Linked DNA regions of Homo sapiens: regions 1 and 2 are each linked to region 3. Evidence: fine-mapped expression QTL. A gene starts in region 3. Each other region holds a variant in brackets. All regions are shown on one strand. Distances are from middle to middle.

The links. PIP is the estimated chance that this variant, and not a neighbour inherited with it, causes the effect.
Region 1: its variant is fine-mapped to the expression of METTL22 in whole blood (INTERVAL, PIP above 0.99).
Region 2: its variant is fine-mapped to the expression of METTL22 in skeletal muscle (FUSION, PIP 0.95).

The regions. Positions count from the first base shown.
Region 1 is chr16:8,641,754-8,646,977 of GRCh38, forward strand. METTL22 (methyltransferase 22, Kin17 lysine) reads left to right here. Exons shown (of 11, transcript NM_024109.4): 8 at 374-454; 9 at 710-812; 10 at 2,804-2,972; 11 at 4,355-5,224. The coding sequence ends at 4,390. Among named protein-coding and RNA genes, the nearest start is that of METTL22, 23 kb to the left of the region's middle. The variant G/C (reference allele first, on the strand shown) is at 2,603.
Region 2 is chr16:8,653,412-8,658,635 of GRCh38, forward strand. It overlaps a transcript of METTL22 not described here. Among named protein-coding and RNA genes, the nearest start is that of ABAT, 19 kb to the right of the region's middle. The variant G/T (reference allele first, on the strand shown) is at 2,835.
Region 3 is chr16:8,619,344-8,624,567 of GRCh38, forward strand. METTL22 (methyltransferase 22, Kin17 lysine) reads left to right here and starts at 2,355. Exons shown (of 11, transcript NM_024109.4): 1 at 2,355-2,432.

The sequences.
Region 1 (5,224 bases), 22 kb after region 3:
TGAGGAAGTAGTACTGTGCCCTTTCTGTGAGTGCAAAACTGAGGCTGTTTTCCTGGGCCACCCAGCAGGCAGAAGGGGGAGATCATGTCCTGCACTGGGCCACAGGCCAAGGCAGCGGGTGAGGCTGAAATCCGCCCGCTGCTCACTGGCTAGAGCAGACACTCAGCAGAAAAGGCACCTCTTCCACCATGACTCTGCACCCGGGCAGCAGTGGGCCTGAAGCAGGGAGTCTGGTCTGCCTGGTGGTGCCCACTGCACCGAGCTACCCCCAGCCCTGTTTCTTCTCTTGAAGTGCCTTTTGGTCAGTCCCAGTGAGAGTTGGTGGCCAGGAGAGAAGGCAATGGGCACAAAGTGTGCTTTTGTTCTTTCTTAGATCCCAAGGTCCCCTTCAGTTGGTCACAAGAGGAAATTTCTGACTTGTACGATCACACCACCATCCTGTTTGCAGCCGAAGGTAAGAAAATTTCTCCTTCGCCGTACACGTCCTTTGTTGTAGCATGAAGTCAAGTGCAGTCTCTCCTCACTTCCCCCGGGAGTTCAGTTTTAGAAGTGACTTTCTGGTACATGCCACCACATCTGCAGTTTTAATTCTGGAAGCTGCTGCTGTTCCGTGGTGATAAGCATTCTCTCTGTGCGGATTGCTCTGAAAAGTCGATTTCTGTAATATTTGCGTGTTTTCCTCTAATGCTGGCCTTTTTGCTTCCCACAGTGTTTTACGACGACGACTTGACTGATGCTGTGTTTAAAACGCTCTCCCGACTCGCCCACAGATTGAAAAATGCCTGCACAGCCATACTGTCGGTGGAGAAGAGGTGAGCTTTGCGCCACGGGAACCGTGCTGACGTCCCGAGTGTCAGCGGAACTCTCACCTCCTAATTGTGTCCTTGTCAGTGTCATTATGATTGTTACTCAGTGCCACTTATTGAGCACCTACTATGTGCCAGGTCTGTGCTCATCCTTTGTGTACGTTACTGCACTGAATCTGCATCCTAGCCCTGTGTGCAGGCGCTGCTGTCCCACTTGACTGATGAAGAGAGGAAGGCTGGGAAGCATCAGGGGCCTTGGCCAGGGCACGGCTAGTTAGTGATAGACAAGGACTTGAATGCAGACTGTACTGGAACCTCAACGCTTGGCCAGCACACACTGTTGAGAGCTTCTCTTCCTGAATGTTCTCTCTGTGGTGCCGTCTGTCTCTTCAGCTCCCCCAGGTCTCTTTCTCTTGCTGAATCGGACAGCTCCTCACCCAACAGCCTCACCCAGACATTTCCACTAGAATATCCTGAAATGTTAGGTTCCATTTATTGAGTGCCCACCTTGTGATAGCTACACACATTCTCCTGTAATACTTAACAGTAGTCCACAGCTTTTCTGAAGATCGTTCGGAATCCACAGCAAAAGCTGTAAAACGAAACAGACTTCTTCACCCAGCAATTCAGCATCTGGAAATTCACACTCAGGGTTGTGTACAAAGCTGTATGTACTTGCATATTTATTGCAGTGTTACTTATACCAATAATACCGAGGGCTTGCTTTGAGGCACACACTGAGCAATAGCAATGTACAGACCTCATTTGGATCCTGATTTCATAAACTGTAAAGGAAAAACATCAGGACAGTTGGGAAAAGTTGAATACTGAATATTTGATGTTAAAGGGTGATTGTTAAACTTTAGTTGAAGAGGTCTTCATCTTCTTGAGACACACACTGACATTTCCAGCTTCACAGAGGAAATGGGTTGGTGTCTGGCATTTGCTTTTTAATAACTCAGTGAGGGCAGGGGGCCCCGGGAAGAGCCAAGGTGGCAGAGTGGCTGGAAGTGGACAGTGGCTGAAGCTGGTAATGGGTTCATTAGACAGTTTTGTTTTTTTTGTTTTTTTGAGGCAGAGTCTTGCCCTGTCAGCCCAGGCTGGAGTGTGATGGTGCGATCTCGGCTCAGCACAAGCGCCACCTCCCGGGTTCACACCATTCTCCTGTCTCAGCCTCCCAAGTAGCTGGGATTACAGGCATGCGTCACCACACCTGGCTAATTTTTGTATTTTTAGTAGAAACGGGGTTTCACCATGTCGTCCAGGCTGGTCTCAAACTCCTGACCTCAGGTGATCTGCCCTCCTCGGCCTCCCACAGTACTGAGATTACAGGTGGGAGCCACCACGCCCAGCATAGACTGTTCTTACTCCTGTTGCATGTCTGGAATTTTTCTTGATAAAAAAATTTGGAAAGAAAAGGGAAAAAGGCAAAGAGCTTTAATTTCAAGTGAAACCATCTTGTAGACTAAGGTTTTGAAAGGCAAGTGGCAGGGTTGGGAGACCTGTTTCTGAAGGTGCTCACTCTCTGAAATCTCTCAGACCCCAGCTTCCCAGCAGTTTTCTCTCTGTTCTCTGTGCTCCCGGAGTCCTCTGCACCGCCCCCTGCCACTGCCTCTCATTCATTCATTTCTCAGATAGTTATGCGCAGCTCCAGGCACCAGATTCTGTGCTGGGTGCAGGCAGGACCTGGAGGGCGTCCTCAAGTGTTGATCTGCAGGACTGTCTTGATCTTTCCAGCAGTGTCATTGTGGGCACGTGACCTGAGCTTTCTGAGCCTGTTTCCACATCTGTAAAGT[G/C]CTATCCACTTCCACCTCCTGGGCTGTCGTGCAGATGTAGGAAGGAATTGCACTCACACACTCAGCATGAGACAGGCGCTCAGTAAAAGCCCGTCCAGGGGATATGAGATCAGTGAGGGATAGGAAAGCAAGGTGGGCAGAAACAGCAAAACCCTTCCCATTGATGATGGCAGTTTGTGCGTCCGACTGGCTGGTTTGCAGGCTCAACTTCACATTGAGACACTTGGACGTCACATGTGAAGCCTACGATCACTTCCGCTCCTGCCTGCACGCGCTGGAGCAGCTCGCAGATGGCAAGCTGCGCTTCGTGGTGGAGCCCGTGGAGGCCTCCTTCCCACAGCTCCTGGTTTACGAGCGCCTCCAGCAACTGGTAGGTCCAGGCCCCGAAGCAGGGCCGTTGGTTGCTTTACTGTGAAGCGGGTGACTCCAGGGCAAAGAGGTGATGAAGCAAGCCCTCCAAGCACAGGCTCCACCCTAGTCCTGCAGGGGGTGAAGCCTGCGTGCCTGGCACCATCTGTAGTGGAACCTGTTGGGGGAGCTACATCCTGTTCTTAGCAGCCACCATGTCTGGAGACGGGCCTACAGGCGAACCTTGTCTTTTACTTTATAGCACATATTCCCCCCGTTGGACAGTTCAGACTCCAGAGGAGGCAAGACCGAGGCAGAGGTTGTTTGGGGAACAGGAAGTCAGTGGAGGGAAGTTTGTGGGTTGCAGATCTTGGTGCAGGCGCCCCGCTGTGGTGGCCGCTGCTCACATCTTCACTGTGGAAGGATACCAGCCCCTCTCGGACTGAACTGGCTTTTCTATTAACTGGAGTCCAAAGATTGAGAATTAACTTCTTTTGTTCTGTTTGCCTTTTGGCTGTGGCCTCCCTTTCTCTATGTCTGTGGAGACCCGGGCCTAGTTCTAAGGAAAAAGGGAGGAAGAGGGAGTCACGAGGAGCTGCCGCCCTTGCACTCTGTCTCGCGTCCTGAGGGAGGGCAGCATGGAATTCGTGTGGTTTTGTGTGCGAGGAGGATCTTGTATTTATTGCTCTGCCACTTCTGGGCAGCATTAAGAGTAGCGTCACATGACCAAGAACACACATTTCTTACAAGTCAGCAGCCCCAATACATGATGCCTAAGACGTCCCAAAAAGGCCAGGTACGGTGGCTCCCACCTGTAATCCCAGCACTCTGGGAGGCCATGGTCGGAGGGTTGCTTGAAGCTAGGAGTTCGAGACCAGCCTGGGCATCACAGACCCTATCTCGACAAAAATCAAGAAAAAAAATTAGCCATGCATGGTGGTGCACACCTGTGGTCCCAGCTACTCTGGAAGCTGAGGTGGGAGGATTGCTTGAGCCCAGAAGTTCAAGGCTGCAGCAAGCTGTGATGGTGCCACTGCACTCCAGACTGGGCAACAGAATGAGATCCTGTCTCTAAAATAAAATTGTTTATAAAGATCTCCCCCAAAATGGAGAGATACGGCAACTCACTGCTATTCTGGTCTCTTCTGATTGTTTGACATCCTCTGATGCACCTTCCGTTAATGCTGGGACTTCATCCATCCAGCCTCTCTGCCACAGTAAAATAGAACAGCCCAGAGCAACAAAGAAAGGAGGAAGCCGCCCGTCCGCTCCTGCCCCAGCTCGCCTGCTCCGTGGCTGACGTGTTGTCTAACTACTCTCCTTGGTGAATCACTTTCCTTAATGAAATTGTGATGCTCTTGTATGTGCACTTCAGAAACCTGTTCTTTTCTCTGTTTGCTGCAGGAGCTCTGGAAGATCATCGCAGAACCAGTAACATGACCCATCGCCTCCACAAGGCGCGGCGTCTCGACTGTTCTTAGAGTGTATTTCTAGTAAAATCAGAAGCTCACCAAAGCAACATGCTTGAGATTTTGTCATTTTAAAAATATGGTTACACGTACCTTAGATGACCCAAGATGGTTTTCTGGGGTCTGTCCCTGCCTCCCAGTTGTAGCCAGAGAAGGTTGTTGCTGTGGGCTGGAGGTCACTTTAGTTGCCTGTTTCTCATGGTTGTGATGTGTGCTCCAGGGTCAAGCCGAGCCACGTTCCTTCTCAGCTCAGTTCCACCCACGTCAGTCATTTCAGCTGTGTGCTTTACTTGCGGTTGCGGCCCTGGCTGTGAGGTGGATTCTTGTACTGCCCTCTGTCAGCTGTTTACAGATGGGTTGACTACCACTGCCAGTATTGCCATCATATTGCCGCTCGGCACAAAAGCCTCATTTCCTCCCAGGGTTGGGTATGCTCCACCCCATCACTCTGGTGAGGGCCCCATGAGAAGGAAGAGGCAGGAGCTGGCGCCAGGAATGGACTGGCATTGGCCTTTGTATTTAATTTTAACTCTTTATCACCCAAATCAGGTACGTTTGGAATAAACCTAAGAGCCACTCTTTGGGGTCATGTGCAGCTGACCAGGGTTTGTGCAGTGATCTTCCTCAGAGGTGTTCCCTTCCGCCTGGACTCATTTTCCCTCCGCCCCTTGGTCTCTCTGTCTTATCACGTGTGTACATGTCTGTCTGTCTGGTTTTTTATCTTCTCCATCTGTGCCTCTCTCCTCCCATCTCCACCCCTTCCTGTCATCCTCTATGTCCCACTGTCTCTCTCCTTCTCTCCAGT
Region 2 (5,224 bases), 34 kb after region 3:
CATGGGCACACACTCTTGTCAGGCCTATCTGGCATTCAGTGATGACTTCTGTGTTGACAGGAAAATATTGATGGGATGAATGGAAAGGGTATAAAACATGGAAGAAGAAACTATTCTTTCATCAGTGATTAAAGGCAGCGGAAATAAAGCCAAGTAAAGTTCAGTGTACAAATTAATAAGGCAATCAGTCTCTATTGATTACTAGATGCCTGGTTGAAGTGGATCTTGAATTGGTTTCCCATGGGAAGGATTTGGAGATTTTAAGTGGCTGAGTGGTAATGATTAAAATCCAACTTTATTCTAAAGCTACCATACATAGTAAAGCCTTAATTAACTAAGACTCAGTTAGTTAAACCTGCTTCCCCATCATTTCCAAGGCTCAAGCTACTGAAACGTTTCAGTAGGACCAGGACTTAGAGACAGGAACACTGGGACCATCTCCTATATCTAAACACCTGGGTAGTGAGAACCCAGGAAGAAGGATGATATCAGGGAAGAATTTTGTGGAAAGCCTGACTTCAGAACCAAGCTCAATGTGGGAAGCTGAAATTGCAGTGACCCATGAGTACACCACTGCACTCCAGACTGGGTGTCAGAGCAAGACCCCATCTCAAAAAAAGAAAAAACAGGCTCAAGCAAAATGGGAGATCTCAGAGGATCGAGATGGTGATAGCCAACTGTCCTAAACATTTTAGATACATTAGCTCAGTAAATATCCCTCCACTCACGTGAGGCCCCACTTCATAGATGGGTAAACTAAGGAGGGAGTAGGCAAGGGGGCCAGGTAACTCTCCCAAGGTCACATAAGTTGTGAGGGATAGAGCCAGGCTTTGAACCTGAGAAGTTTGGCTTTATAGTCTAAGAATTTATCCCCCAGGCTCTTCACCACTCCTGGTAATTTGCTCATCATCACATAACTTATAAATGGCAGCTCTAAGGTATGTGTTTATAGGTGGAAAGTTACATACCACATGGTTAACCTTGATTAACCCCAGGGCATGGAATTGGGGGAATGGAATTGATGAGACTTTGCCCTTTATGTTATATACATGTATTTTGTTTTTACAAACATGGGTTATTTTTGTGTCTTTTTTACTAAAAATAAAGTTAAAAGAAATTAAGTACATGTGCACACATGCACGCATGCATACACACACAGCCAAAATGCTACTCTCTAACAAGAGCTGTATTTGAAAACAGATAGATCAAGCCAAGCTTTTGGGAAATAAAATTTATTTTAGCCCAAAGGTTCTAGAAAGACTCAGAGAAAAGTTCAGAGGGCAAATCATCCCTTGGGTGGGTCTGGGGCTACAAGACCCTGGGCTTGGTGCTCCTCCAACTGAGCCTCAGAATGCATAGAATGAGACTATGCCAGGCTCATCTGAACTCCATGTTGTCTGGTTCCCCAGTGGGAAATTTGTCATGTCCAGACCCAGGGGAGTGTGGCCGTGATCTGTACTAAAGGCTGAAGTTCCACCATAAGTTTTATCCATGTTTCTAGCCCATTACATTTTTACAGAGAACGCTAATGGACATAGCAGCAAACTGAAGGTGGACATAAATCCAGCCACCATGTGGGAAGGGAAAAAAGGGAGTAACTCAAACCTGCTGGGCCTCTTCCCAATAGTTAGAAGACTCTAAAATAAGCCAAGCCCTGTGTGGGGCATTGGGGAAAGGAACTGTATTATCTATTTGCTGCATGACAAAATACCCCAAAACTTAGAAGCTTAAGACAACAAACATTTATTATCTTACAGTACCTGTGGGTCATAAATCTGGGCTTAGTTTAACTGGGTGCCTCTGTCTTAAGACCTCTGCTAAGGCTACAAGGAGTTCAGCTGTGGTCTCATCTGAAGGTTCAACTAAGAGTGGATCCACATTGAGGCTCCCTCTTGTGGTTGGTGGCAGGATTCAGTTCCTCACCTGCTATGGGTCTAAGGGCCTCAGTTCCTCACTGGCTGCTGACCACAGACTTCTCTCATTTCTCTGCCATGTGGGCCTCTCTAGGGGGCCTCTGATAAAGCCAGGACATGACAGCAGCTTTCTCAGAGCAAGCATACAAGAATAGAGAGAGTTTACTGGGAGGTAACCTAATCTGAGAAGTGACACTCCGTCACTTTTGTCACATTCAGTTCTTCAGAAGTGAGTCACTAAGTCCAGCCCACACTCAAGGGGAGGGGATTACACAGAGTGGGAATACCCAAAGGTGGGATCACTGGGGACCATCTCAGAGGCTGCCCACAAGAGAGATGCAAAGGACACATCCTTGCCCTGAAGAGGCACTGAATCTGGAAGGAAGTGGGCAAGCCCGCCAGCATTGTGATGCAGAGATCGTGTTCTCATACCCACAGCTGATGTCCATTGAGCACCAACTTCCATCCAGGTGCTCTTCTAAACAAAGCCGTTCAATCTATTATCCACCTAAATGTGCAAACTAAGATTTATTTCTGAGGCATTTGGGGGATTCAGGAAGAGGAGAGGGCTGAGGGTGATGCCTAGCTTTCTGGCTTGGAGGACTGTGTCTTCTGACAAGACATAGTTCTTGAAGACTCACCACCATGCCCTCCACCAAGGTAAATTCTCCTGATGACCACATCTTTGCTCTAACACAGTGTTCTCCAAAGTATGGCGAGTTAGGATACCAGTGGTATGTGGCAGGTTTTTGTTGTTGTTGTTTTAGAGACAGGTCTCGCCATGTTGCCCACTGGAGTGCAGTGGCTATTCACAGGCATGAGCATAGTGCACCACGGCCTCGAACTGCTTGGGCTCAAACAGTCTTTCTACCTCAGCCTCCCAAGGAGCTAGGACTACAGGTGTGCACCACTGTTCCTGGC[G/T]CAGAGAGGTTTTAAGAGAAAAGCATTTTGAAGTTTATCCTATTGACATGTATGTAGCAGGATGCCACTTCCAGGGATTAGTCCTTTCCTCCACCCCCACTTCCTAAATGATTTTATTTGTACCCTGAGGGCCTTTTCCCCACTTCCCCCACAGACCTGCGTGAGTAGACCTCAGGCACCAACTGCACAACTAACTATTGGAGAAGCAAAGATTAAGCTCCAGCACAGCCACTAGGCAAAACCTGGGACACAGGGATTCTAATGTGAACTTGCAGAGTAAGATTCTCTGCTTCTGAGAAAACAGCTGTGTGGGCTGTGAAGATGGGAGAGGAGGTTTGAGACTCCAGTTACCTCAGCAGGAGAGCAGCCAGTCCCTGTCACTCCACCTTCATCTGCAGTGAGTGATGTTCCAGCAGTGCTGGCCTGGGCTGGGCTGTGCCCTGCGGCTCCAATGCCCTCCTGACAACCCAGGAAGCTGTCTTACTCCATTTTGTGCTGCTATAACAGAACACCACAGACTGGGTAACGTAATTAACAGAAATGTATTGGCTCACAGTTCTGAGGCTGGGAGGTCCAAGAGCTAAAGGCCAGCATCTGGCAAGGGCCTTCTTGCTGCATGATAGCACAGCAGAAGGCGCCACATGGTAGAACAGTAAAGAGAGGATGAGAACGAGAGAGAAGTAAACATGGGTCAAACTCGTCCTTTTATAAGGAACCCACTCCCGAGAAGACAAACCCACTCTGGTGATAACAGGATTAATCCACAGAGTCCTCTTGCCCTAATCACCTCTTAAAAGTCCCACCTCTTGATACTGTTACAATAGGAATACACTTCATCATGAGTTGTTTGGGAGGGAACAGACATCTAAACCACAGCTGAGCCCTTCTTACAGCAAGATAAGAGAGGAAGATGCCACTTCAGGGAGGATCGATGTCATTACAAGACCTCACAAAACCTGTTTGAAGTCACCCTCCAAGCTAGTCCAGTTGTTGAACCACACCATCATGCCCTGTTTTGTGTATTCTGGGAGAAAAATGTATCTTGCATTTGAAAACCAGGGACATGAAGGATATTATTCTCGGTTGAGGCTAAGTTAATAATTTGTGCGTAGTTAAATACAATATTAAGTAATAATGTAAGTGGGAAGCAGGAATAGCAAATGTCACAAAGATGGTGATCTTGGGGGCTGAAGTTTGCAAAACACCAACAATAGCTTTGCCTGTGGTTTCAGCCTTTGTCCTGTCCCTCTTTAACTAAAGGCAGGAAGACTTGTCCCCCATAAAACCAGGTTCCTTTTCGTCTACTATATGGAGTTCAAAACAATTTCAGTCAGTCCTGAGAAACTGAAGACAAAGGATGTTTTCCACCTTTTTGAAACTATAGTGGGTTGAATGGTGGCCCTAAACAAGCTATGTCCACGTTCTAAACCCCAGAACCTATGAATGGGAAACTTGGAAACATTTGAGAAAGGGGTCTTTGCAGATCTAATTAAGTTAAGGGTCTTGACAGTCGTCCTGGATTTAGGGCGGGTCCTAAATCTAATGACTGGTGTCCTTCTTTTTTCTTTTCTTTTCTTTCTTTTTTTTTTGAGACAAGGTTTCTCTCTGTCACCCAGGCTGGAGTTCAGTGGTGTGATCATAGCTCAGTGCAGCCTCAACCTCCTGGACTCAAGCTATCCTCCCATCTCAGTCTCCTGAGTAGCTGGGATACAGGCGTGTGACGCCATGCCTGGCTAATTTTGTCTGTTTTTAGCAGAGACGGGGTTTCACCATGTTGCCCAGGCTGGTCTCAAACTCCCGAGTTCAAGCAATCCTCCCACCTTGGCCTCCCAAAGTGCTGGGATTATAGGCATGAGCCACCGTGCTCTGCCCCTGATGTCTTTATAAGAGAAAGGAGAGGGAGATTTGAGAACCACAGTGAAGATGGCCTATGAAGGCAGAGATCAGAGTGATGCTGCCACATGAAGGAGCACCCGGGATCACCAGAAACTGGAAGAGGCAAGGAAGAACCCTCCCCTTGAGCCTTTGGAGGCGTGAGTCCCTGCTGACACCTTGATTGCGGACTTCTGGTTTACAGAACTGAAATAATCCATTTCCACTGTTTTAATCCCCCAGTTTGTGGTCATTTGTTACCAAAGCAAACTCATCCAGAACCCAAGGGATATAGGCTCAGAAATGTGCACCTCATGGTAAAGAAACACTACAAGCCACTGCAAAGCTGAAGGAGACAGGGAATGGGGAGGAAGTCCCCAGGCTCAATCTCAAAGATCTTGGCTGAAGCCCGGTTGCTCCTCGGCTCCAGAAGAGCTAGGTGGACATGGTATGCCTCATATCCTCAGGTGAATACTTGGCATCGGTCAGAAGGATATCCTGAGATGCTGTGAGGGATC
Region 3 (5,224 bases):
GTGGTGGCACACGCCTGTAATCCCAGCTACTCAGGAGACTGAGGCAGGAGAATTGCTTGATCCAGGGAGGCAGAGGTTGCAGTGAGCTGAGATGGCGTCACTGCACTCCAGCCTGGTCGACAAATGGAGACTCTGTCAAAAAGAAAAAAGAAAAGAAAAGAAAACGTGAGTCTGCGTCTCACTGGCTAGGTAACACTGAGCAAGGCACTTCACCTCTCTGAGCTTCGGAATGGGTGTGAGAATGAAACAAAACCACAAGATGAAGGGGCCAGCAGTGTGCCTTGTTTATAACTGAGGCTCCGGAACTGAGGGCCCCCTCCCGCACTCCCCCAGCTACCATCTCTTTGCAGCCCTGCCAAGAAGGGCTGGCTTTCTTTCCCCTTACCTGGTGACCTATTACTGTGTTGCAAACCACCTCAAAATTTGTGGCAGAAATGATAACCCTTTTGGGGCCATCTGGGCTGCTATAACAGAATACCATACATGGGGTGGCTGATAAACACATTCATTTCTCATGGTTCTAGGGGCTGGAAAGTCCAAAATCAAGGCACTGGCAGATTCTGTGTCCAATTCTTGGTCATAGATGGCTGTCTTTTTGCCGTGTCCTCACATGACAGAAGAAGTGAGGCAGCTCTTTGGGGCCTCTTTTGTAGGGGCACTAATCCCCTATAAAAGATTATAGGTTTGACAAGAGGAGGAATGTGATCTTTTGATTTTTAAGGGTCATTCCCCCGGTTTAAATTTGAAGACAAAACTCCCAAGGGTGTGAACAATGCCTTCCTAGTGCCCTCCCCACCACTCAACATCCTCTGGGGATAACTAAGAGAACCCTCAGCGAACTAGAGAGAAAACTATGAATAGAATCTGGTCCCAAGACACCCAACTGGCTCTCTGTGTACTGTCCTGGGGGATTTCAGGAAACATAATCTGTTTCTTAAAAAAAAAAAAAAAAAAAATTCTTATTTGTGTCGCTTAGTCACCCTATCAACTCTCCACGTTTTATCATCAGTAACCATGAAATTGATGTTGATTTAATTCTATTTTGAAAAGAGAAAAAAAAGTAATTTAGACAAAGGTTGCCAGCTGAGGCCATGTGTGTGCGTGTGTGTATATGTGAACACACAGGGATATAGATTTTACATATGTGGACTTTACATATGTTCCTGTGTGTATATTTGTATGTTCACTGACATGTCTGAGAGTGAGCACCACTGTGTGTGTCTGGGCATGTCTGTGAACACGTCAGTGTGGTGTATATCCCTGGCAGCTCCCCATCTCACGCACAGTAAAATCCAAAGTTCTTAGAATGTCACAAAAGTTCTAACCCTGGCTACCTATGTATCCTCGTTTCCTGCGGCCCATCCCCTGGCTTACTCCATTGTGGCCAGGCTGACTTCCATGATGTCACTGAATATATAGATTGAGAAAAGGGCCAATATTATTGACTGTACTTTTTCTAAAAATGCAGTGACTCAGGCAAGAGACGTGAGAATCTGTGGTCTATCCTGCTCATCCTCTTCAGGGGATTCTTCTGAGGGCTGTGCTCAGTCACGGACTCAGAGGCTTTCTGAAATTCTGCAGGCAAGAAAAAACGAGCAAACATGGAGTCTTATGTTTGCCACTCTGTCTCACCCCCTTGGTGTTGGAAACTTGATGAGCATACGAATTAACGAAATCACTACCACCTAATGAAATCACTACCACCTATTAATAATAACAAGTACTGGCTGGGCGTGGTGGCTCATGCCTGTAATTTATGAGCTTTAGGAGGCCGAAGCAGGAGGACTGCTTGAAGCCAGGAGTTTGAGACCAGCCTGGGCAACACAACAAGATACAGTCTGTACAAAAAAAAAAAAAAATGGTGCCACGCAACTGTAGTCCCAGCTACTAGAGAGGCTGAAACAGGATTCCTTAAGCCCAGGAGTTCAAGGCTGCAGTGAGCTAAAATTGCGCCGCTGCACTCCAGCCTGGGTGACAGAGCAAGACCATCTCAAATAAACAAACAAACAAACAAACGAGTACTAAGAGCATGGATGACGGTAACACCCGTGATAATAAATACAGTAGCATGCTGGTTAAATAGCACCGGCTCTGATCCCACACCCCGGGTTCGAATCCAGGCTTTACCACTTAGTAGCTGGGAGAGTTATTTAACTCCTATTTAAGTCTTTTAGAGGAATGAGTTTAGCCACCTAGGCGGGTCCCCCCAGCAAACACGCCTCGCCCGCGACCAGAGCGAAGGCTACAGGTGCCCGCCGGCAACCCTCGGACGCATGCGCGGCCCGGGCAGGTAGGTGGAGCCACGGTGCGGGGCAGTCGGATGGTCGCACGCGGGGGCGGGGCCGCGCCTGCGCAGACCGCCTGTTATGGCGGCCGCCTAAGTCCCACAGAGACGGGAGTCGGGTGGGATCCCAGGCTGGGCCCCGCGGCGGGTAAGTGCCTGGGAGAGGCGGCGGGATAGGGTAGGGTGCAGGGAACCTCCTGGCGCCGAGCCTGACTTTGAAATCCGAGCTCCCACAGATCGGAGGCCCAGATCCCTAAGGCCCGACCCCACTCTTAGCGTCAGTTTCCCCTTCTCAACACGGGTGTTGGGGAAAGAAGTCCACGTCCTCACCTGGGTTTCCATCCTGGGTCCAGGCACCTCTCCTTCGGTTCTAGATTAGGAAGGGAGGGCAGTGCCCGACCTGTGACTGTTTTTTGAGAGGGCAATAGTTAACCCACAAGGGTGGCGTCAGGAAGGCGACAAGACAAAGAGAACGAGTAGCCCCACGGGGGACGTCCCCGGAGCCCCTCACTACCACTCTACGCACCGTGGCCAGGCCACGTCTTTCCTGCCCCCAGCCTGGGCCTTCACACCCTGCCCTCCCCAGCTCCTGGCCTAAATCGTCATGGGATCGCGCCAAATTATTGATTGTTGAGTGAGTTGCAGTTATCAGAAAGAAAGATGAGGAGGGAAGTTATTTCAACACCGTGATCCCAGCACACTGCTTATTTGGGACAACTGACTGGGGACCTATAGGAGAAGAAAGCTGGTAGCGTCTCAGTCTAGCCCCCACAGCCTTAGAAGAGCCAAGAACACGTTAGCTCCTGCTGCAGGGATGAGCCTGCAGCCCTATGGAGAGGTGGTGGGGCAGGTCCCCATCTGCAACCTGGGTCTCCTTTCTCAGCTCTGCCCAGTAAAGAGAGGAGCCCGAAGCCCATACAGACCCTGCATTTCCGGAAAGAGACTTTTCCTGACTAGAGAAACTGTTACCTTTTTTCTTTCTTCCCAGCATTCACTTTAATCATTATTATATTACTATAATGATAGTATTTACTATTGTTGCTTATTGAACGTTTACTATATGTCGTAAGCCCGAAAAGTGGTAATTGTCTCATATACTCCTCTGAGTATATGAGGGCCTGAGATAGGTTCAAGAGGGCCTCCTTATTCCCAGATAGCTGATTCTAGGGAAAGCCACTTAAAGGGAATCTCCTTCATCTGGAACTTACATTGCAGCGTACATTTCTTGGGAAGCCTGGTTGGGTTGAATTTAAAAATGGAAAATTCAACTAGAGATTAAGAATTTGAGTTTTTTTGTGTGTGTCTATACTTAAAATTTGGTGTGTAATATTATGCTCACTTTTGGAAAAAGCAAAGAACATTGATTTTTCTGGGATGTAAGTTTTCCAACAAAATTGCGCTATAGGCCATGCCTGGTGGCTCACACCTATAATCCCAGCACTTTGGGAGGCCAAGGTAGATGGATCTACCTTGGTCAGGAGTTCAAGACTAGCCTGGCCAACATGGCAAAACCCCATCTTTACTAAAAATACAAAAATTAGGTGGACATTGTGGTGCATGCCTGTAGTCCCAGTTACTCGGGACTCTGAGGTAGGATCACTTGAGCCCAGGAGGCGGAGGTTGTAGTGAGCCGAGATGGCACCACTGCACTCTAGCCTGGGCAACAGAGTGAGACTCTGTCTCAGAAAAAAAAAAAAAAATGCGCTATGGCAAAAAAAGAAATGGCATCCTTTGGTTCACTTTTGATTTTTACAGCAATATTAGAGAGGATCTTCCCCACCCCCTTCAAAAAAAACTGTATGTGAAAGTCCTCAGTTTTCCCCCAGGACATCTCTAAGTCCTGAGAGAGCTTGATCTGCCTTTGAAATGAGTGGTAGGTATAAGCTGTATTTTCTCTTCTGGAATCTGGTGTGGTTTTGCCAGTCCGATTGATTGAGTGTTGGCCTTCAGGTCCAGCATTTCTCCATCACTTTCAATGACACCATGAAATTCTGCATTGATTTGCCAGATTCACAGACTTTCTTTACAACCCACTTGCATTTTGATGGCTTTATGGTGTTGAGTAGGAAAGCTAGCATGGAGATGAATAAGGAATCATCTTTTTCTTAAAAATTTTTTTGTTGGGACAGCTTTTGCTGCCCCACAGCAACCACTTAAATGTAGGAACTCCAGCAGTGTACTGGGATCATTAGGACAGCCTGAGTCATGATGACCTCATTTTGCAGTTGAAGAAGTGGGGGCCCTGAAGATTTCATGACATCTACCCAGGTAGGAACAGCTCCTATAGGCAGTCAGGGGTTACAGGCAGGTTTGGGTCAAATACCTGAAACCAACCCCAGGACAAGGAGGTTGCTGGTGTTTTATTAACACCTACTGTGAGCCAAGGACTCTGCTCAGCAGTTTACCCACCCAGTAACACTGCGTGAGATTGTGGCTGAAGAAACAGATGCAGAGAGGCGAAGTGATTTTCCTGAAATCACATGGCTAGAAGGTGAGAAACCAGGGATCCCCACCTGGTCTGTCCAGCTTCAAAGCCCATCAGACTACTGCTGTTTGATGATGCTTTTTGATTAGGTGAAACGGTTGGAGGGAGGTCCCACCTGTTCTTGACCACTTTGCCTCAGCCATGGTTTTCCAAGTTTTAGTTATTAATGTGTCACCTGCATAATTTTGCCATATCTGTGTATCACCAGTGTAGTGACTCCCTTACTACTTTTCCTTTAAATCCACTCACTCTTTTTTTTTTTTTTTTAATTTCTTTTTGAGACAGGGTCTTGCTCTGCCACCCAGCCTGGAGTGCAGAGTGCAGTGACGCATTCTCAGCTCACTGCAACCCCTGCCTTTTGGTGTCAAGCGATCCTCCCACCTCAGCCTCCCAAGTAGCTGGGACTACCAGCGCGCGCCACGACACCCGCCTAATTCCACTCATCTTTTTAAATT